Linked DNA regions of Homo sapiens: region 1 is linked to region 2. The links come from fine-mapping of genetic effects on gene expression. A gene starts in region 2. The other region holds a variant in brackets. All regions are shown on one strand. Distances are from middle to middle.

Region 1 (10,943 bases), 54 kb after region 2:
TTAAACATCCCCATCGTGTAACTTTCAAAATAACCTGCAAAATCAAACATTCATTTGAGGTTTAGGAAATCTGTTCTGTGCAAGTATCAGAAGCAGCACAGTTAATATAAAACTCAGACTGACTGCAGCAATTTGAGGGTACTACTAGGGCTGTGCAAGCACAGACTGCTTGTGAAGCTATTATTATCATCATTCTCTTTAATATTACAGGGAGAGGCAACTCTGCAAGTGAGGGACAATTGACAATCACCAAATACAACTTGAACCAAAATTACAAGTAGTTTTAAATCATGGTGAATGTAAATTCTACCCGCAATGGCAACATCAAATAATTAATCAAAGATCTTTGAGAAGCACATAGACAAGAGAAGGAGAGAAATTAGCAAGCACTATTTATTAATACACTCCTAAAGTTTCCAACAGCAAAGATTATTTTTAAAAATTGAATCCCCTCGGTATTTCAGGAATGTTTAGTGATGGATATGGAAATGGCTCAGTTAAATGGGCCCTTCTGTGGATGAGGAAATATAAACAAGGAGAGACCCCAGAGACCAATTTGATTTTACATTTTTATAAATCATGAGCAAGAGAGAGAGCACAGAAATGCCTCCATTTGCAGGGTGACTGATTGCTAACCCAATGACAACTCTGGGAAGATTCCAAAATGCCACATGACTGAGTAGAAAAGTAGCAGATGACTTTTTTGATAGGCAAATATATAATGGAAAAAATCAAATGGTTCTTTATAAAGTAATAGGCTCTAAGTTCTCAGTTCTAAGTGCCTGTAGAATTTTACTAAGGAAAAAGCCAGCACAACGATAAACATCATCAGGAAGGATACTATTAAACCATCAGGCACAAAACGAGTACCCCAAAGTCAGTTTCTTCCGCTTCTTCCCTTAAATCAATGATGAAAACAATGAACCCTACTCTGTCATCTTAACCTCTGCAAAACCACAAAGCATTTATTATCACTGGACTACTTAATTTCTTGCCATTTAATCTCAAGAAAGCTACAAGAACCCCGGAAGTTAAAAGTTAAATTTAAAAAAAGAAAGCTACAAGAGACTTATATAAGCCCCAAAAAAGACAATTAAAATGAGTAAAGCAAGGGAATGGTTTGACAGCAAACTAACAAAAGGTCTTCTCAGGCTACGGAAAGATATGCCTGCAATCCATGAATAAGATAAAGTGACCTCAGACTCCACAGCAAATCCCGAAATGTAAGAACTAAGAAACAACGCTTAGAGGCTACAAGGGGTAAATTCAGGACAAATCAAAGGTGTAACTTTGTGAAAAGGGTGTTAAACAACTTCTTATTCCAAGAGATGGTGCCAGAAGCATGATTAGGTATAGGAAGAACTTAGATAAATCCACATATGGTGGCTTTGGGGAAATCAGGGCAGTTCTGTGGGACAGAACTAATTTTTTAAAGCTGACCCGGAAGACAAGCAATAACTGCTTCATGACATGATTGGGGCTGCTGTCACAGAGAAGCCATTGAGAGCCCTTCCTGTGGGCTCCGAACAGCACCGGACTGAGGAAGGGTCACTGTGGGAACAGGCGGAGCCTCCTTCCTGGCTGTACTTGGCGACTCTTGGATTTTCCACTCCTGTGCCGTCCACAGAAAAAGCACAGACTTGCTCTCTCAACTCGCCCCTCCTCAAAACCTGGGTTCGCACCTCATGTCTTCAGCTCAGGCAACTTCTAGGGCCTGGAGCATTCTTTTTTCCTCTCACCTTCTCCCACCCAGAACACCTACCCGGCCAACCTCTATTCACCTTTCAAGCCTGTGCAGAAGCGTGGCTTCTCTAAGAAATGTTTCAAAAGCGACATAGCACTCCAAGAAGTGTAGGTGTGGATATCACAGGCTCTCTCAAGAGACTATCTGGCTCCTGACTGTGCCGCTGCCATTGTCTTGCTGTGTGATGCTGGGCAAGTTACCTAACCTTTCTGTGCTTCAGTATCCTCATCTGTAAACTGGAAATATTAATAATTACCTACCTCTAGGGGCATTATGAGGCTGTAATGTTGTGATAGAACAAGAAATATATATCTGGTTTTTGTCTGACATAAAACTCCTAAAACCCTTGGAATTTCCTGAGTAGATGGGGTGGGAGGAACATCTTTTTTTATTAATAATAAGCTCCTTTCAAGCACACCTGAATTTATGCTAATAAGGTGACTCTTGAATGGACACTGATTGCCAGAGAAACCAACCATGTAATTAGAGGATTGGAACTTTTAGCCCCATCCCAACCTCCTAGGAGGGGAGGACTGGGGATTGAGTTAATTACCAATGGCTACTAATTTAATCAACCATGCCTATGTAATGAAACCTCCATAAAACCCTAAATGACACAATTTGGAGGGCTTCCAAGTTGGCGCCACATACTCCCATCCCCATCCTTTGCCCTATGCATCTCTTCCATTAGGCTATTTCCGAGTTGTATCCTTTATAACAAACTGGTAATGGTAAAAGTTGTGTTCTGTGAGTCATTCTAGCAAATTATCGAACCTGAGGAGGGGTTGGGAACCCCCCCCTATAGCCAGTCAGTCTGAAGTACAGGTCACGACCTGGGACTTGCAACTGGTGTCTGAAGTGGGGACAGTCTTGTGGGACTGAGTCCTTAACCTGTGGGATCTGACGCTAACTCCAGGTACGTAGTGAGTTAAACTGTAGGAGGTCCAGTTGGTACTCATTGGGAATTGGAGAACTGGCTGGTATACAAAAAGACCCTACATATTTGGCATTAAAAGTGGTGTGAATGTAGAGAAAATAGGTTTTAATTTTAGAACTGTAAAAGATTTTTCATTTAAAGAACTTAGGATGGTGTCTGATATGTGGCAAGCACTCAACAAATATTGACTCATTATTGTTTGCCATGTGACTTTTTGTGCTGATTAAATATTTGTGAAATATTTAACCCAGAATCTGGCATGTAGTTAGAGCTCATATTACTAATTAAGTTCATTTCCAAAGACTGGATATGTAATTTCAAGCACATATTTGTTTGGGGGAAAAAAACGCCTAGCCATTAACATCATTTGGCTATCTTGTGTGGCTTTTTACACAAGGAATTTTCATCTTTTTACTGCCATTATTAATAGAGAAGCCCCTTCAAGAAAATACCACCAACCCTGCTTATTATCATTTTTTGAGCATGTAACAATGAGTGTCTATTTCTTCTGCATTCATTAAGCACCTACTATGTGCCAGGCACCATGCTGGGTGCTGGAAACACAAAGAGGAATGTAACTTAGCACCTGGGCCTCAAGGAGCACTCTTTCCAGAAGGTGAAGGTGGCGAGGGTTGGGGGGTAGGGGGAGGGGAGACAGACAAATACATATTGACTGACAAATATAATGAAGAAAAAGAAAGCTGATTAAAGAACTGGGGAATAGCAAACAGTCCTATTTTTGAAATAATTTTTCTAGAATGAATGCATAATGATATCTGTGTAGAGTTACATTTCATTCCATTCTTATATAATATTAAAAGATGTTTTTAAAAGATAAGGTCATTACACTAATAAGAACAGCTTACTTTTTTTTTTTTTTTCAGGGATGGAGCATGTGGTAGGCAGAATAATGGCCACCCCACCAAAGCTTTCTACAGCCTAATCCCTGGATCCTGTTACACTACCTGGCAAAAGGCTTTGTGGATGGACTTAAGGTTATCCAGGTAGGCCCAGGACAATCACGTGGGCCCTTAAAAGTGGACAAGGAGGGCCAGGCATAGTGGCTCACGCCTGTAATCCCAGAACTTTGGGAGGCTGAGGTGGGCAGATCACTTGAGGTCAGGAGTTCAAGACCAGCCTGGCCATCATGGCGAAACCCGGTCTCTACTGAAAATACAAAAATTAGCTGGGTGTGGTGGCACACACCTGTAATCCCAGCTACTCAGGAGGCTGAGGCACAAGAATTGCTTGAACCTGGGAGGTGGAGGTTGCAGTGAGCTGAGATCACATCACTGCACTCCAGCCTGGGCAATAGAGCAAGACTGTCTCTCTCTCAAAAAAAAAAAAAAAAAAAAAGGACATGGAGGGCAAAAGAGTCAGAGGAAGGAATGCAGTAGAAGAAAGGGCGGGAGAGATTCAGAGCTTGACTTGCCCCACTGTTGCTGGCTTTGCAGCAAGAACACAGGACCTCAGTCCTACAACCACATGGAACTGAATTCTACTGACAACCTGAATGAGCCTGGAAGTGGCTTCTCCCCAGAGCTTAGCCTTGCCAACACCTTGAAAAACTTGAAGCAGAGAAACCAGCTGAGCCCACCAGGTATCTGATCTACTGAACTGTAAGGATGACAAAACTGTATTGTTTTGGCTGGGCATGGTGGCCCATGCCTATAATCCCAGCACTTTGGGAGGCCAAGACAGGCAGATCACTTGAGCCAAGGAGTTCAAGACCAGCCCCAACATGGTGAAACTCTGTCCCTTAAAAAAAAACAAAAACAAAAACAAAACTTTATTGTTTTAAGCCACTAAATTTGTGGTAATTTGTTACAGCAGTCACAGACAACTAATATGGAGCAGAAGAGTAAATAAATGATGTCACTTGATTTGGGCCTGATATGCTTTTTTTCTTTTTCGGACATGGAGTCTCGCTGTGTCACCCAGGCTACAGTGCAGTGGTGTGATCTCGGCTCACTGCAACCTCCGCCTCCCGGGATCAAGCGATTCTCCTGCCTCAGCCTTCCAAGTAGCTGGGATTACAGGTGCCTGCCACCATGCCCAGCTAATTTTTGTATTTTTAGTAGAGATGGGGTTTTGCCATGTTGGCCAGGCTGGTCTTGAACTCCTGACCTCAGGTGATCCACCTGCCTTGGCCTCCCGAAGTGCTGGGATTACAGGTGTGAGCCACCACGCCCGGCCTGGGCCTGGTATGTTTGGGCTCTGTGTACCCCCACAAGTCTCATCTCAAGTTGTGATCCTAAGCGTTGGAGGTGGGGCCTGGTAAGAGGTGGCTGGATCATGGGGGCAGACTTCCCCCTTGCTGTTCTTGTGATAGTGAGTGAGTTCTCACGAGATCTGGTTAAAAGTGTGCGGCACTTCCCCCTTGCTCTCTCTCTCTCCTGCTCCGCTATGGTAAGATGTGTTTGCTTCCCCTTTGCCTTCACTATGATTGTGC[G/A]TTTCCTGAGGCCTCCCAGCTATGCTTCCTGTACAGCTTGCAGAACTATGAGTCAATTAAACCTTTTCTTCATAAATTACCCAGCCTCAGGTGGTTCTTTATAGAAGTGTGGGAATGGACTAATACAGGGCCTTTGTCATATCATTGGGATAATGGATCCAAGATTTCTCAGCAGAGGGTAATAATAGGGTTTAGAAACAGGGAATCAGCCAGGCAGTGGGCTCATGCCTGTAATCCCTGCACTTTGGGAGGGTTAAGATCACTTGAGCCCAGGAGTTTGAGACCAGCCTGTGCAACAAAGCAAGACCCTGTCTCTAGAAAAATATTTTATAAATTAGCTTGGTGAAGTGGCACACACCTGTGGTCCTAGCTACTCAGGAGGCCGAGGGAGGAGGATCCCTCGGGCCCAAGAGGTCAAGGCTGCAATGAGCTGTGATTGCACCACTGCACTCCAGCCTTGGCGTCAGAGGGAAACCCTGTCTCAAAACAAAACAAAAAAAAAACCAGAGTCAAATCTCTGACCGTGATACACAGATAGTTTTCTTCCCTGCTTAAAACTCTCCAGAGCTATACATTGCCTAGATCAGGGCTTTTCTAATGGTAAAATGTACACACATTCCCTGGAGACACTGTTAAAATGCAGATTCTGCTTCAGTGGGGCTGGTGAGGCCTGAGTGTCTCCACTCTCTTGCTTCTGCCACTCTCCACCCTCACCCTTTATCACCTTGTCACCAAGCCCTTCAGGATGCAGATTCATCTACCTTGTTGCAGATATTTTCCCAGAACCTGAAAGAATGCCTGAAATAGAACAGGTGCTCAATAACTATTTGTCAAATAAATGAATAAATTGATCTTGACTCTGAGTTTTTAGAAAACAGAAAAGGAAGAGCAGAAAGGGAAATCAGGGGCCAAGGGAGGCACTTGGAAGCACAAAAAAATGGGCGGGTTGGGGGGGGGGCGGTGGTCACAGAGTAGCAACTGGAGGAAAGGCACCTCTGCAACTGTTTGAAGTTAAAGATTTAGGTGACAGATTTACGGGTATCAGATTTCAGCCTGGAGAAACAAAAACAAACAAAAAAAAACACGGAGGACCCAGAAACAAATGATTCTAACTTGCTCAGAAAGTCATATGTGAACGCAACAATAAACTGCTGATTTTCTACAGTTTTCACTACATACACACAGACAGACACGCACACACGTGTGCATATACACAGGCATTGGTGGTTTCCTTTCCTCCACACTCCATTAATATCCGGCTTGTGACCTTGTCCTGTTGATATGGTGAAACTGGGATAAATTCAGATTCACACTCTTAGCTGCTCCAAAGTGGCCTCATCAATGAGTGCTCTTCTGTAAACTCAGGGAAGGAAGTGAATGATGTGTCTGCATGTACGGCCAACAGAAATCTCAGCTGTCTGGTCTGGCATGAAAAGTCCCCTGCTTTATCGGGGTGGGAGGCCACCCCCAGGGCTGGGCAGCTTGCCTCCAGCTAGGGTTGTTTTTGTTTTGGTTGCAAAGTCACCAAGACCTCCAGAGAAACAAAGCACTGAGTTTTGTTTTTTGTTTTTTGTTTTTTTTGTCTTGTTTTGTTCTAATGAGTCAAACTTACCAGGGGACACAAAGCTGAAGTCTGCCCACAATATTTTTATGCTTTCCCCACATGAAGCAAAGTTCTAGCCAACAGCTCCCTTCCTTTTCCCACATGAGCTAATATTCTGTAGCTCCCTAGCCATGACTCTGTTTATAGCCTTGGGCTTCAAGACCAGTGAGGAGAATTGTGCTCATTATAAGACATGCCTTCCCATCAAATGTCACTTTTTTGTTTGTTGTTTTTAGGAAGATTATTTAGAAAATGAGGTAAAGAGAACCGCCCTTTTTTTTCTCTGGTGGAGAACAAACATCTGGACTTTCCCTACCTCTGATTTCAGTTTCATGACAACACTGAGCATGTGACCTGGATCTATTTCAGGGGAAACTGCAAGAACCCAGGGTTTCACCCAAAAATGAGAAGCCCATTTATTTCTGTTTTCCTGTTTCTCATGGCCACAGAGTGCACTGAGCCCTGCTGTTAGTGGCTCACTAGAATGAGGAGGTCAGACCAGGAGGAACTGGAGAAATAAGGTCCTCTCTGCACAAGGGCGTGAGTCATTTCTAAGAGGGTGTCCTGGAGAACCAAGCTTGAAGTTTGCATGTTTTTCCCCATATGACAGCAATCTTGAAAACCTTTCAAAAGGTCAGTGGAACTGACTTTGAGGGGCCCTCTGCATGACTGTGTATGAGGTCTGGAAGGAAGGAGGTCAGGGGGAAGCTGTGACACAGCTTCTGGCTAGGGCTGTGGCAAACAGGGTGCCATTAGGAGTGCAGCGCGAGTGGCTGCCAGCCCGTTCACAACACCACATGTGCGGTGCTCTCAGCCCAAGGGGCCCTCTGGGAGCTGACAGGAACACTGAGTTCATCCATCCAGGCCCATCCAGGGAGGTTCCTGAGACTCACTCCACCTGGGGGTGGGGGCTATTTTAGCTGTTACTGCATGGACTAAATACAAGAACCCTCAGCACTTTGGACCTGCTGCTTTCTCACTCAAACATTTCCACAGAAAAGTGACAGTAAGCTTGTTACTGAATCTAATTACAAGCCCAGTGTTCCCAGTGCGCAGGGCTCATGTGATACATAGTAAGTTCTACTACATGACCAGCCAAATCCTTTCACTTATTTCCTGTTACAGATGCTTGAATGCAGAGGTAGGAGCAATGGGAAACAGCAAAGGGGGTGGGGATGTTTTGAATGGTCCAGAGCAAGATGAAATCTCTCCAAATCTTATGATCCAGCTGCTATTGGCCTTTTTTTCTTACAAAATTAATCTAGACTGGCCACAGTTCTGTGGAGGATGCTTTAGAATAGGGCAGCCATGTCCTACCAGAGCCATTATCTTTCCTTTGGTGAAATAAGGACGGCCATCATGTTTTCCCCTGGGGTTTTCTCAGGCTGAGTTTCAAGATCTCCCAAACTGTTATACTCTAAATTAGCCTCGAGGTGCTCAGTTCCTGAACTCCTGTTTTCTAAAGTCCTTAATCAAAGCTAGAGTCAAATAGCAAATTTTCAAAGAGAACTCACTGAGACCACATGCTCCCAACTGACATAATGGCCAATTCTAAGATCATCTCAAAGGTCTTCTGGAGCTCATTAAAGTGGGTGCCAAATCTCCAATGAAGCTTATTGAAAACTCTTCCCAAAATGTCCAGAACTTTCCAGGTCATGGCTTTGTGTCCCTTGAGCAGGGACCTAGAATGGACATCAATGCTATAAATGCCTTATCAGGCTGTGGCCACCCTTAAAGAGAAAGAAACCACAAAAGGCCACAGTGGCACCCCATTGACCCCACACAGCACCACATTTTGCCAGCCTTATTAAATCTGATTTGGTAGATGGAATCATTTAGAAGATCCTATGGAATGTGAAGTCTGCTGCAGACTGCTGCAGGATTAAGTGCAATGATGAGTCAGATTCAAAGCTGACTGGAAAAAAAAGAATAGGGTTTCATGGACAACATACACAGGTGGTCAGTAAAGCTGCCTGTTGCATGCTGCATCTCTCTCATTCCCTCATCCACCCAACAAACACCTATCAGGTTCCTGCATGTGCCAGCCACTGTGCTCAGCACTGGGCATTCAATGCTGAACGACATAGTTATTGACTCCCAAGGTCAAATAATATATTGGTAACACATTTCTGCCCCTATCATAACTCTCCTTTCCCCACCTTGCCTGCCCAGGTCATGCTGACCTGGATAAAGAGCCAGACCTAGAGACAAAATCATCCCGACAGCTGCACAACAGGGATGATATGGCAACCTCAATTCTTGTCTGTAAATTTGTTGATACTCTTCCCATCCAGAGGTTATGGTCTCTATCCCCTCCCATTGGGTCTGGGCTGGTCTTAGGAATGCATTTCTAAGCAATAGAAAGCCACGGAAGTGATGCTGTAGAACTTGCAAGATTAGGTCAGAAAAGGTGATATAGCCTCTACCTTGCTTGCTGGGACACTTGCTTTTGGAACCTTAAGCCATCACATAAGAAATCCAACTACCCAGCAGCCACCATGCTGGCAGGCAGCTCAGGCCACATGGAAAAGCCCTGCACAGACATTCCTGTCAGAAGTCCTTGTGGTTGGGTCCTTCCAGCCCAGGTGCCAGACATATGAGTAAATGAACCTTTGCATGATTCCAGCCCCAGGCTCCTGGTTTTCCCACCTGGGGCCGTGGACTTCATGGAGAAAAGGCAAGCCGTCCCTGCTATGCCCTTTCCAAATTGCTCACCTAGAGGATCCCAGGCCCTGGAGAAACAGGAATGCCTTCAGGCACCTGATGTCTCTCCTTTCTTCCTCAGATCCCTGGGCTGGAGAGTCAAATCGTATTGCTCTCTTTCTCCTGGGCACCACTGATAGACTCGGAACCAGTTGTAGAACCAATATCCACTATTGAAAAGTGGAGAGTCAGGGACTCTTTCTGGCGAGCCCACACCCTTCATAATGTTGATTAAGAACACATACCCTGGGGACAAATCCTGGCTCCATCACTTATTCTGAGATGACTCAAACTCCCAAACTTCAACTTTTAATCTGTAAAATGGGGAGAGCAGTACACGCTTCATAAGGCTGTTGTCAGGATCACATTGAGGGAATCTAGGTAAAGTGCCTGGCATGTGGCGAATGCTCAAATGTCTTCCCCAGGAAGAAGCATCTCTTGTGACTTACCCCTTGTAAGACTTGAAAGCTGTCGTTGTTGGGTGGTGGGTCTTGATCGGGGTCAACACCAACTCTGAAAGTCACCAGGGAGAAAGACAAAGAGAAAAACAGAGCGTATTAGCTTGGCCCATGGTAGCCATGCAGGCTGCAAGTAGCCTGGAGGCTAATCATCTTCCCGAAGCATAAGGAGTGGTTAGCTAAAAGGTGAGGAAAGCTGTCATGCAGAAGTCATAAGAAAGAGGTCGCATACCACTTCAGATCCCAGAGGGTCAGAGGGGCGATGAATCCCATGTGCTCACACTCTAAGCAAGGCCGCCGGAACACAACACATGCTGGCAACTGTCCACTTGCTTTTCTGCACCAGGTGGTCCCAGTTATCAAAATGGGGGTCTCACTGCACTGGGCCCTTCCTTTGTGCTGCTTCCTCACTTCTGCCCTGGCCTGCTTTAATTTCTCTAACATTCTGTTATAAACTTTTTCAAATATACAGGGAGATGTTGAAAGACTTTAGAGTGAACCCCTATATACCCACCATCACTAGACTCTACCATTAACATTTTACTGTATATTCCTTATTACCTATCTATCCATTTCTCTATCACCCATCTTACTTTTTCTTTGGATACATTCAGATAAAGTTGCAGACATCAGAATACTTCCCCTAAATACTTCACGTGCATATTGACAAAGAGTCTCTCCTTGACCAAACTTTAGTCAGGCTCCTAGGAATTCACTTCCCAACTAGGCACTGACTTTTGGGCTTCCATGTCCATCTCAGCATAGCCCAATTTTAGCAAGAGGTTTGCTAAGTTGGTTTGGCCAGAACCGAACATCTGATTGGGTTCTTCATCCCCCCACAATCCCTCAGGTGATGTCTGATTGTCTAAGTTGGTTTGGCCACAGCCCAACATCTGAATGGCCTATCCCCAACATCTGATTGGATTCTTCATCCCCCCACAATCCCTCAGGTGGTGTCTAATCCCCTTCGCCTGTCTTCAGCAAGAATCCTATTGGGTCAGTTTAGCCAGAATCCCCCTTGCCCCTGATATTTCCTCTCAGTACTT
Region 2 (10,943 bases):
GCCATTGATAAGCTTAGAAAGAACTGATGATGTGGCAATATGGGGGCAGAACTCAGATTGGAGTGTGCTGAGGAATTGTTCCTGGACCAAGCCGAGGGTCGGACTGCTTATTCTCTCAGCCCAATTACAAGATGCAGGTGAACTGGGAAAGAAGAGAGTTTTTATTTCTGTAACCAGGTGCAGGGAGAAGGCCTGGAAATTATCACCAGACCAACTCAAAATTACAAAGTTTTCCAGAGCTTACATACCTTCTAAGCTACATGTCTACGTGTAAGTGTGCATTCATCTAAAGACATAAGTGATTAACTTCTTCTAATCTATAACTAAGGTCTGAGTCCTGAAGACCTTCCTCTGGAGCCTCAGTAAATTTACTTAATCTAAATGGATCCAGGTGCTGGGGTGATTGCCCTTATCTTATCTCCTGCTAAATCATGGAGGTTTGGGGAGTTCCTTCAGACCACTAATAACATGTGCTTAATCTTTTTAAATTTTATTTTATTTTTTTGAGACACAGTCTCACTCATTGCCCAGGCTGGAGTGCAGTGGCTCAATCTCGGCTCACTGCAACCTCCGCCTTCCAGGTTCAAGTGATTCTCCTGCCTCAGCCTCCCAAGTAGCTGGGATTACAGGTGCATGCCACGCCCGGCTAATTTTTGTATTTTTAGTAGAGACGAGTTTTCACCATGTTGGCCAAGCTGGTCTCGAACTCCTGACCTCAAGTGATCTGCCTGCCTCGGCCTCCCAAAGTGCTGGGATTACAGGCATGAACCACTGCACCCAGAGAAACTTGTTTAATCTTAAATGGGTCCTGTTAAGAACTCCTTCCTTCTCTTGTCACGCTTCAAGGCCCAGGAAAGACCTAGGCAAAACTCTTGGTGTGCTTTTGTTACCTTCCAGCCTTTGTATAAGGGCACTGGCTCTCTTAGCTTTTAATAGTTAGCTTAACCACTCAGTGCTGAAACAGTTGTTAGGGAGGCCTGCCTGTTCAGCCGTTAGGGAGACCTGGCCTGCCACAGAATGAGTAGGAGATGAGAGCACAGAGAGAACTAGTATAGACAGCTCTACTAAGAAGCTGGGCTGTGAGGAGTGGGTAGAGAAACCAGTGGCAACAGGACAAGGGTAGGAGAAGGGCAGAGTGAGGGTACCTGGCAGAAAGATGCAACAGCGGGCTAGAATCTGGCCAGGTTCTGCCTTCAAGCTGTTAACCTTGGACTGGGGCTGTGGCCTGAAGGAAGGGGTACTTATTTGAATGGGGTCAGCCCCCTTGCAATTCATCTGTCTGGAGGGGGCACTTTCTGATTCTCACAAGGGTACTGTATGTGTTAGCAGCAGCTATGCTAAAGGAGGATGCAAATAAATGGGACTTTAAAGAGAGAGAGATAGAGGAAGAAACAGAGAAAGAGATCAAACTGTTTAATTTTCACATCAGTGGAAATAATCTGGTTGAGAGGGTGTAGTTGAATAGGGAGGAGAAATGGTGATTGATAGGAGGGACCGGGGCCTACTCTATTGTACCACTCTATTGTGAAAAATGGATAGCAGATCTAGTAACTTAGATGTGATAGAAATCACTTAATAGAAAACAACTTTAATTCTGATTGAGTTTTCCTTCTGCTAGGATGACAGACCATTGATTGACCTTATTAATTCCTAGGGTTCCTCTACTCCCAAGGTTGTATGTACTCTTGATCTGGGGTCTTAGAATCATTGGGTTTTTGGCTCACCTAGTTGCCCTGAGATGTCTCCATCACTGTCACTTGACCCTTCTGCTGCTTCCAAGCTATGCCTGGGGCCCAGGAAGGTTTGGCACAGTGCCCCTGATCATCTCTGTCAAGCTGAACCATGTGGCCACTTCTCTTTGACTCCTGCTCTGCCCTGACACATTGCCAGGAAAAAGAGTTCAGGTGCCCTGGGCTGCAGGATCCATAGACTTCTCCCTTTGCCCACTCCTCCTAGCCTAAGGAAAATGTCTCAGTGGGGTTGGGGGCACTAGAGTGCTGCTGCTCTTTCTTTTGCTTCTCCAAAACATTTCGTCTAAGCCCTCACACCTTCTTTATATCAGCTAGCTTTTGCTACAAAACAAACCCCTAAAACTTACATCTATTATTTCTCACAATTTGGTGGGTCAGCTCAGTTAGGGCAGGAAGGTGTAGCACCTTTCTACTCTAAGTGTGGTCCTCAGACCAGGAGCATCAGAAGCACCCAGGAGCTTATTAGAAATGTAGTCTCAGGACCCAGTGCAGTGGCTCGTGCCTGTAATCCCAGCAATTTGGGAGGACGAGGCAAGAGGATTGCTTGAGGCCAGGAGTCCAAGACCAGCCTGGGCAACATAGCAAGACCCTACAATTTTTTTTTTTTTTTTTGAGATGGAGTCTCACTCTGTCGCCCAGGCTGGAGTGCAGTGGCACGATCTTGGCTCACTGCAACCTCTGCCTCCCGGGTTCAAGTGATTCTTCTGCCTCAGCCTCCCGAGTAGCTGGGACTACAGGCATGTGCCACCACACCTGGCTAATTTTTGTATTTTTAGTATAGATGGGGTTTCACCATATTGGCCAGGCTGGTCTCCAACTCCTGACCTCGTGATCCGCCTGCCTTGGCCTCCCAAAGTGCTGGGATTACAGGCGTGAGCCACCGCGCCCAGCCTAAAAAAAAATTTTTTTTAATTAGCCAGGCATGAGAAGGATTGCTTGAACCCAGGAAGTTGAAGCTGCAGTGAGCTATGATCACGCCACTGCACTCCAGCCTTCCACCAGCCTGGGTGACAGAGGGAGAGAAGACCCTGTCTATTTAAAAAAAGAAGAAGAAAGAAGAAAGAAGAAGGAGAAGAAGAAAGAAAAGAAATGTAGTCTCTCTGGCCCCACCCTAGGTGTAATGAATCATTTTCTGCTTTTTTTTTTTTTTTGAGATGAGGTCTCACTCTGTCACCCAGGTTGGAGTGCAGTGGCATGACCTCGGCTCACTACAATCTCCACCTCCTGGGCTCAAGTGATCCTCCCGCCTCAGCCTTCCAAGTAGTTGGGACTACAGGTGCACGCCACCATGCTTGGTTAACTTTTTTTGTGTTTTTGGTAGAGACGGGGTTTCACCATGTTGCCCAGGCTGGTCTTGAACTCCTAGGCTCAGGATACCCACCCGCGTCGGCCTCCCAAAGCGTTGGGATTACAGGTGTGAGCCACTGGGCCAGGCCCACTTTCTGCATTTTGACAGGAGCCTTCAAGCATTAAAGTTTGAGAAGCACTGGTCGAGGATCTATCTCCTTTCTCACCTGTCTGGCGGTCAGCAGGCTTGTTTGTCTGGGGGGTGGGGGGCCTCAGCTGGGAGGGCTTATTTTCTGAGCCATGTTGCTAACCCAGGCTTCTTCACGAGCCGATCTCAGGGTTCCAAAGAGCAGGATGAGGGCAATTCCCACAGCAGGAGTATTTTTCAAACCTTTGCTGTGTCATGTTTGCTACTGTCCCACAGGCCAATGCAAGCCACATGGTCATCCCAGAGTCAGTATGGGAAGGCATTGCCCAAAGGCAAAACAGAGGAGGGGAATACTTTGTGGTTATTTAAAAAACCTATCACACTTTCCACTATCAGAGTTGAGGCTTTTGGAGCGGAGGGCGGGGGGTGGGGGGAAGCGGGAAACACCAGCAACTATTTGCATTCTGCCCAGCCACACCTCTCCCCTCACACCAGCACAGAGCCACCTACTTGCTTAAAAGATGAGAGGAGGCCAGGCACAGTAGCTCAGGCCTGTAATCCCAGCACAAGGCCGAAGTGGGAGGATCACTTGAGCCCACGAGTTCAAGACCAGCCTGGGCAACATACAGACCCCGGTCTCTACAAAAAACAAACAAACAAACAAAATTAGCTGGGTGTGGTCCACATGCCTGTGGTCTCAGCTGCTTGGGAGGCTGAGGTAGGAAGATCGCTTGGGCTTGAGAGGTTGAGGCTGCAGTGAGTGGTGATAGTGCCACCGCACTCCAGCCTGGGTGACAGAGCCAGACCCTGTCTCAAAGCTTTTTAAAAAAGCCAGAGAGGAGGGAAAAGTGAAAACAGAAGGGAAAGTTGTAGATTAATATTGCAAAATCATATCCTTGCTATAAACGAGATGTGTACAGAGGTCAATGCATATATGAGTTTGGTAGTGGAAAAGTGAGAGATCGTCTAACATGGTTTCTTTATGAAGTAGGCAGTAAGGTCATGTGCTGAGAAGAGGTGGGTGGGGGAAGAGGGGTATCAGAAGTCTGAGGAGACTAGAGAAGGTTTGAAATCATCATAATGGAACTGGAGACTGGGAAGTGACATGAAGAACCTAAGATTTCAGCAACCATTTCAGGTTGATGATTATGAGGTTATCTTGATGCTGATCTGTTCTGTGGGCTCCCAAAGTGCTGAGATTACAGGCGTGAGCCACTGTGCCTGGCTCACACCTGTGGAGAAATGTTTCGCAGTGGTGTTTGCAGGCACAGAGAAAGCCAAAAGCAGGGTTTGGGGGATTTTGCTAGATGAGTAATGAAAAGGCAGAGGGCACGTGAGTTTAGCTTATTGGAGGGAGTGTTATTAAAATAATGGTATGGCATCTTTCAGCTGAATATGAAAAATTGAGAAGAAAGTGGGGGTGGTGGTCAAAAAGTGGAGGTTGGAGAATAGGGAAGATTTGAACAACTGGCTGGAAGAAGAGGGGAATTGTGGAAAGAAAACGAAATGCTTGAGTCAGTGGTTTCACAGGTGGAGTAGCTTCCGTGATGAAAAAGACCAGTGGAGAGCATTGCATATGTTCTCACTCTTCCAATTTGAACACCTTCCCCTGGTGGAGATAAGTAGATATGCTTTCTATGTTTTATTAACTTTACAACACCTTCCCCAAGCTGGTGAAAGGAAGCTCTCACTTCCTTATTCATTAGCCTGATGAAACAGAGCAAAATGTATCTTTTTTGGTTCTGTTTTGAATTTTAGTAACTCTAGTCTTCATCTGCCTGTTGGACTTCCTGTCTCTTTTTCATCTATCTTTGGGTACACATTTCTTCTTACGGGTCCTTTTAAACACCGAGCTCCTGAGAAAGGTCACCATTCTACCACTTTGATTCTGTAAATGTCTTTTGCTCATAGGTGTCAGAATAGGCTGGGTTATACTGTGGTAACAACCCCCAAATCTCGCAATCCCAGGAGGTACATGGGTACTAAGAATTATTCACATTTTACAAATGACCAAACTGGGCCCCAGAGTATTGGTAAAATGTGCAGAGCCCATCAGCTGGTGAAACCCTAAGGAACACAACACTTAGAATTTCACAAAGGCTAGACTTTATGAAATGTGCTGCGTGGATGCAGTAGTATCTCCAACCCCCCTGGACCGCTCTGCCACGTACAATCTTCTATCTTTCAGTCCGGAACTCAGTAACACCCACTCCAGGGCTGATGGGGGCGCTGGATGTATAGTGGCGAGTGTTTATCTGCCTAGGATAGCGATGGCTAGGCAGGGGACATAAAACAGAAGAGGCAGTGACCTTCTCCGGGTGGGGTCTATGGCCCTTTACTGGGTACATTCTGTACACACAGGCCCCTCCTTTGCCTGAAGTCATTGATGAAGACTTCATTACGGAGGGTTTGGGGAAAGGTGGGGGTCTGGCTGGGTAAGCCGGCGTCCCAGCCCCGCTACAGCCCCGCCCAGATCTGGCAGAGCCGTGGGCGAACCCAGGCGGGCAGAAAGGCGGGGCGGGCGGCTGCCAAGCCGGCCAATAGGCGGCTCTCCGGCTGCTAAGCCGAGAGGGCAGGGGCGCCGTCAGTAGCACCACCGCCTTCCAAGTTTCCCCTTGTGGATGCGCGGCCCCGCGGCTCTGCTCCTCCCGGCGCAGAGGGGCCGGGAGAGGCCACAGGAGCGGACCTGGCACGGGATTTCTGAGGAACGGGAGAAGACTGGCGCCCGACCCGCTCTGGAGGGTCGGTGAACGATGAAGGGCCGGCGGCGGCGACGCCGAGAGTACTGCAAGTTCGCGCTGCTGTTGGTGCTGTACACGCTGGTGCTGTTGCTCGTCCCCTCCGTATTGGACGGCGGCCGCGACGGGGACAAGGGCGCCGAGCACTGCCCCGGCCTGCAGCGCAGCCTGGGAGTGTGGAGCCTGGAGGCGGCGGCGGCCGGCGAACGCGAGCAGGGAGCGGAGGCGCGGGCCGCCGAGGAAGGGGGCGCGAACCAGTCTCCTCGGTTCCCAAGCAACCTCAGCGGCGCTGTCGGGGAGGCAGTGTCTCGCGAGAAGCAGCACATCTACGTGCATGCCACCTGGCGCACCGGCTCGTCCTTCCTGGGCGAACTCTTTAACCAGCACCCGGACGTTTTCTACTTGTATGAGCCCATGTGGCATCTATGGCAGGCGCTGTATCCGGGCGACGCCGAGAGCTTGCAGGGCGCGCTGCGCGACATGCTGCGTTCGCTCTTCCGCTGCGACTTCTCCGTGCTGCGGCTGTACGCGCCGCCGGGGGACCCCGCTGCGCGCGCCCCGGACACGGCCAATCTTACCACGGCCGCCCTCTTCCGCTGGCGGACTAACAAGGTCATCTGCTCGCCGCCACTGTGTCCTGGCGCACCCCGTGCCCGGGCCGAGGTGGGCCTCGTCGAGGACACCGCCTGCGAGCGCAGCTGCCCACCCGTGGCGATACGCGCCCTGGAGGCCGAGTGCCGAAAGTACCCGGTGGTGGTCATCAAGGACGTGCGCCTGCTCGATCTGGGCGTGCTGGTGCCCCTGTTGCGTGATCCAGGCCTCAACCTGAAGGTGGTGCAGCTTTTCCGCGACCCGAGGGCGGTGCACAACTCGCGCCTCAAGTCTAGGCAGGGACTGCTGCGCGAGAGCATCCAGGTGCTGCGCACCCGCCAGAGGGGCGACCGCTTCCACCGTGTGCTGCTGGCGCACGGCGTGGGTGCTCGCCCCGGGGGCCAGTCTCGCGCGCTGCCCGCCGCGCCGCGCGCCGATTTCTTCCTGACCGGTGCGCTCGAGGTGATCTGCGAAGCCTGGCTGCGCGATCTGCTTTTCGCGCGCGGCGCGCCCGCCTGGCTGCGGCGCCGCTACCTGAGGCTGCGCTATGAGGACCTGGTGCGGCAGCCACGCGCCCAGCTGCGCCGCCTGCTGCGCTTCTCCGGGCTACGCGCGCTCGCAGCGCTCGATGCCTTCGCGCTCAACATGACTCGCGGCGCGGCCTACGGCGCCGACCGGCCCTTCCACCTGTCAGCGCGCGACGCCCGGGAGGCGGTGCACGCCTGGCGCGAGCGCCTGAGCCGAGAGCAGGTGCGCCAGGTGGAGGCCGCCTGCGCTCCAGCCATGCGTCTGCTCGCCTACCCTCGCAGCGGAGAGGAGGGCGACGCGGAGCAGCCCAGGGAAGGGGAGACGCCGCTGGAGATGGATGCCGACGGCGCCACGTAGCCTCCCATCCCTGTCCCCGGCACGGATCCGGGTAAGGTGGCCCGGGGCAAGGCAGGGACCGGGACTGGTCTTCCGGGAGCCTGGAATGGCCTGGGGAGGGGGAAGTGTAGGGGGGAGGGTACCATGCTGGATCCCATTCTATCAGATCAGGTCCAAGAGGATGGGAAAGTCCTGCTCGTAGAATTTGGTAGATTCATCGGAATCTCCAGCTTAGCCTCGCGCCTCCTTAGAGGGAGATCCTGAGATGAGAGAGGATATTTAGGCGTGACTGAGGTGGAAGCCAGGTCTCTGCATTCCCATTCCCCTGTATGAAGTAGGAGGTTTCAGAGGGCTGAGGAGAGTAGAGAAGGTTTGAAACAGTCATAATGAGCCGTGAGACTGGGAATTGACATGTGGAGTATAGGATTTCGGAAACCATTTGAGGTTGATGATTATGGAGTTATCTTGATGCCAGTTTGTCCTGTGAGGAGACTTTGCAATGGTGTTTACAGGCACAGAGAAAGCCAAAAGCAGAGAGTTTGGTGGAAAGGCATTGATTCTAACCCTACCTATCCCTAATCTTTCTGTTTCATGTTTCTTCTCTGTCTGTTTTATGCGCAGGCTCCAGGGCTTTTCTCCTGAATTTCCAAACATGCAGGCACAGTCCAGCGGCTCTTGCAACACTTCTTGCACATTGTGTGTCTCAGGCGCTTGTGTAGTGAATAGACTTGCTTTCCCCTGGCTCATGTGCGCCTCTCTGTCTCCCCTCCCCCTCCTTCCCTCTCTCATTTCCCCTCTCCCTCTCTTCCTCTTCCTCCCCCTTCCCCTCCTCCTCTCCCTTCCCCCTTCTCCCTGTAGCTGGCGTTTGCAGGATATTTGACCATATCCCATTCACATCAGGTCACAAAAGCTGCCTGGTCAGCTTCCTCTAGTGTCGACAAGACCTCAGGGTTGGGTGTCCCCCACTCCACCCCATCCGTTTGACAGATGGAGCCTTCAATTGGCAGTAGCAGTTTGTGACTGCAGGAGGAGCTTTGTGAAAAGACACTGCCCCCTCTTTTTTGTTTTTCCATTTTTGTTTTTTGTTTTTTTCTGTATATCTGAAGATGCTAAAGTGGGGCTTAAACAGTCTCAAAATGTGTTCTGTGTGGGTCAGTGTATGGCCTGAGGGAAGGGTTTGTTCTGCACAGTGCTGACCATAGGAGTCTACTTAGTGACATGGGAGTGTGTTTCCCCAAACTTTATGTGAGTTGGAAGGGTGCCGCCTTCTGCACTGTGCAGTCAGTCCAGAGGAGGAGGAAAAGTAGTGCTGGGTGGGCGGAAGTGAGTTAAGTTTCCATTCATTATTTTATAGTGTAATTCAGCATTCCCCTGAGATGAAGCTCTGAGGACAAACGTTGAAGATATTAATGAAGAGGGATTTTGTTGTTGTTACAGAACCAGGGTTTCAGAGTGATTTCAGAAGCTGGCTAACTAATTTTTCTCCCAGTAATCAAATGGTTTTCTTAGTCAGTTTCTGAAATTGCTAGGAAGTCTGTGTTCTTTCCTGATTTCCAGAGTGATGGAAGGTAAGGCACAGGGTGACTTGTCACATCTTAACAAAAACATCCTTTCATCTGCTGATCCTGTATTTACAGATATAACAGTAATTGTCCCTAACCCTTCTTCACAGGCCTGAGGGAACTCCTCCCCTGGGCGGAATGCTGTGCATTTTATGGCTTTAAGACATGACAATCTCCCAGAAACTTTTGCTTTTTTTTTTTTTTTTTTTTCATTTTTACTAACATCTATTTGAGTACTGGCTGGGGTGAAGCATTAAAGAGAATAGAGAGGAGGGTAGAGGACAGTCTTTGCCCTCTAGGAGGTTAGAGTCTGTGTGGGTGACAGTGACTGTGAGGGAAGACACTGGTGTTGCTGTTTGGAAGGCCGATGGGGCTTCCTTTGCAGGGCTGCAGGGACATCTGGGAGCAAGCTTTAGGCTCTTCCAGACTTTAGTGACTGAGTCCTTCCTCCCGCATTGGGCACTTACCACCAATCAGTGGGTTGATTACAGTGCTTGTATTCTTGGTTCCTAGGAAGATAACGTTACTGCCGACTCACTGATGGGTTTTCCAAAAGTTTGTCACACTCTATTCTAGAGAAGGGAGGAGAAGAGAGGGGGAGGGATCCTTACTGAAGGGCTATGTGTCATGCACTGAGTTAGGCATTGTACATATATCATTATTTATACCAGTTTTCCAGATGAGGAATCCGAGACTCAGAGAAGTAATTTGCCCAAAGTCATACCTGGGCTGGTGAGGGTGGAACAGTGTTTGGTGTTAGACTCCAGAGCTCATAATCCTCTCTTTTATACCTCACCTGGCCCCTGCCTTGGCATTCCCTGGCAGCACCCTGATACTCCAGCTAGGCTAGTATGAGGTGGAAAACACACTCAGCTTTATTACTAATATGTCCCAACCACTGAACAAATAAAATATCCCTGAGCTGCCGACAGTGCCTACACAGGAAAGCCGACAACTTTACAGCCATCCTCCCCACAGGGCATCTCAGGGTGCCCTCAGCTCAACTGAGGAGAGAGGCCACATGTGAATTAACCTGAGTAACTTCTGGATGGTCCATACCCAATGGCCAGGATTTGGCAGTGAGGGAGTCAGTGAAGTTTTTTCTGGTCTGGGTAGGGGCCGTAGCACCCTGAACCAAGTCACCAAGGACCTAGGCCCTTTCTATCTTTTACATCTTGGCTTTCATTCACTGGCTTATCTTCCCACTGTAACAAGATGGTAGCCACAGCTCCAAGCAAAACATCTTCACACAACGACACAGGGTTATTAAAATACAGAAAGGAAGGAAGCTATCTAGCCAGTAAGGGGTGGAGGGGTTTTTCCTCCTGCCATGCTCTTTTTTTTTTTTTTTTTTTTTTTTGAGTGGCAGCTCTTACTCTGTCACCCAGGCTGGAGTACAGTGGTGTAATCTTGGCTCACTGCAATTTCCTCCTCCCAGGCTCAAGTGATCCTCCCACCTCAGCCTCCCAAGCATCTGGGCCCACAGGTGCGTACCACCACATCCAATCTTTCACCCAGGCTGGAGTGCAATGTCATGGCTCACTGCAGCCTCAACTTCCCAGGGTTAAGCAATCCTCCCACCTCAGCCTCCCAAGTAGCTGGGACTACAGGTGCACACCACCACTCAATCTCATTAAAAGAAATTTTTTTTTTGCAAAGATTGGGGATGGGCGGGGAGTGGGGGCTCTCACTGTGTTGCCCAGGTTAGTCTCGTACTCCTGAGCTCAAGCTATCTGCCTGCCTCGGCCTCTCAAAGTGCTGGGATTATGGATGTGAATCACTGCACCCAGCCTTAATAAATTATAACACCTTTCCCAGAACCCCCTTTACCAGCCGACGTCCCTTTATGTCTCATTAGCTAAAACTGGGTTATACAGCCTGCCCTAGCCCAATCATTGGTGAAAGGGAATGGGAGCATTGTGATTGGCTTAGACCAGCGGTTCTCAGCCCTGGCTGAACATTACATTTACATGAGGAGCTTTTTTATTTATTTTTTTAATGC

What was found. PIP is the estimated chance that this variant, and not a neighbour inherited with it, causes the effect.
Region 1: its variant is fine-mapped to the expression of CHST7 in whole blood (TOPMed, PIP above 0.99).

Annotation. Positions count from the first base shown.
Region 1 is chrX:46,621,698-46,632,640 of GRCh38, forward strand. It overlaps SLC9A7 (solute carrier family 9 member A7), which reads right to left. Exons shown (of 17, transcript NM_001257291.2): 14 at 9,889-9,952. It overlaps LOC124905182 (a long non-coding RNA gene), which reads left to right. Exons shown (of 2, transcript XR_007068222.1): 1 at 1-2,660; 2 at 3,566-5,209. Among named protein-coding and RNA genes, the nearest start is that of CHST7, 53 kb to the left of the region's middle. The variant G/A (reference allele first, on the strand shown) is at 5,134.
Region 2 is chrX:46,567,993-46,578,935 of GRCh38, forward strand. It overlaps CHST7 (carbohydrate sulfotransferase 7), which reads left to right and starts at 5,773. Exons shown (of 2, transcript NM_019886.4): 1 at 5,773-7,431. The coding sequence starts at 5,940. The coding sequence ends at 7,400. RefSeq lists silencers at 6,791-6,840, 6,961-7,020.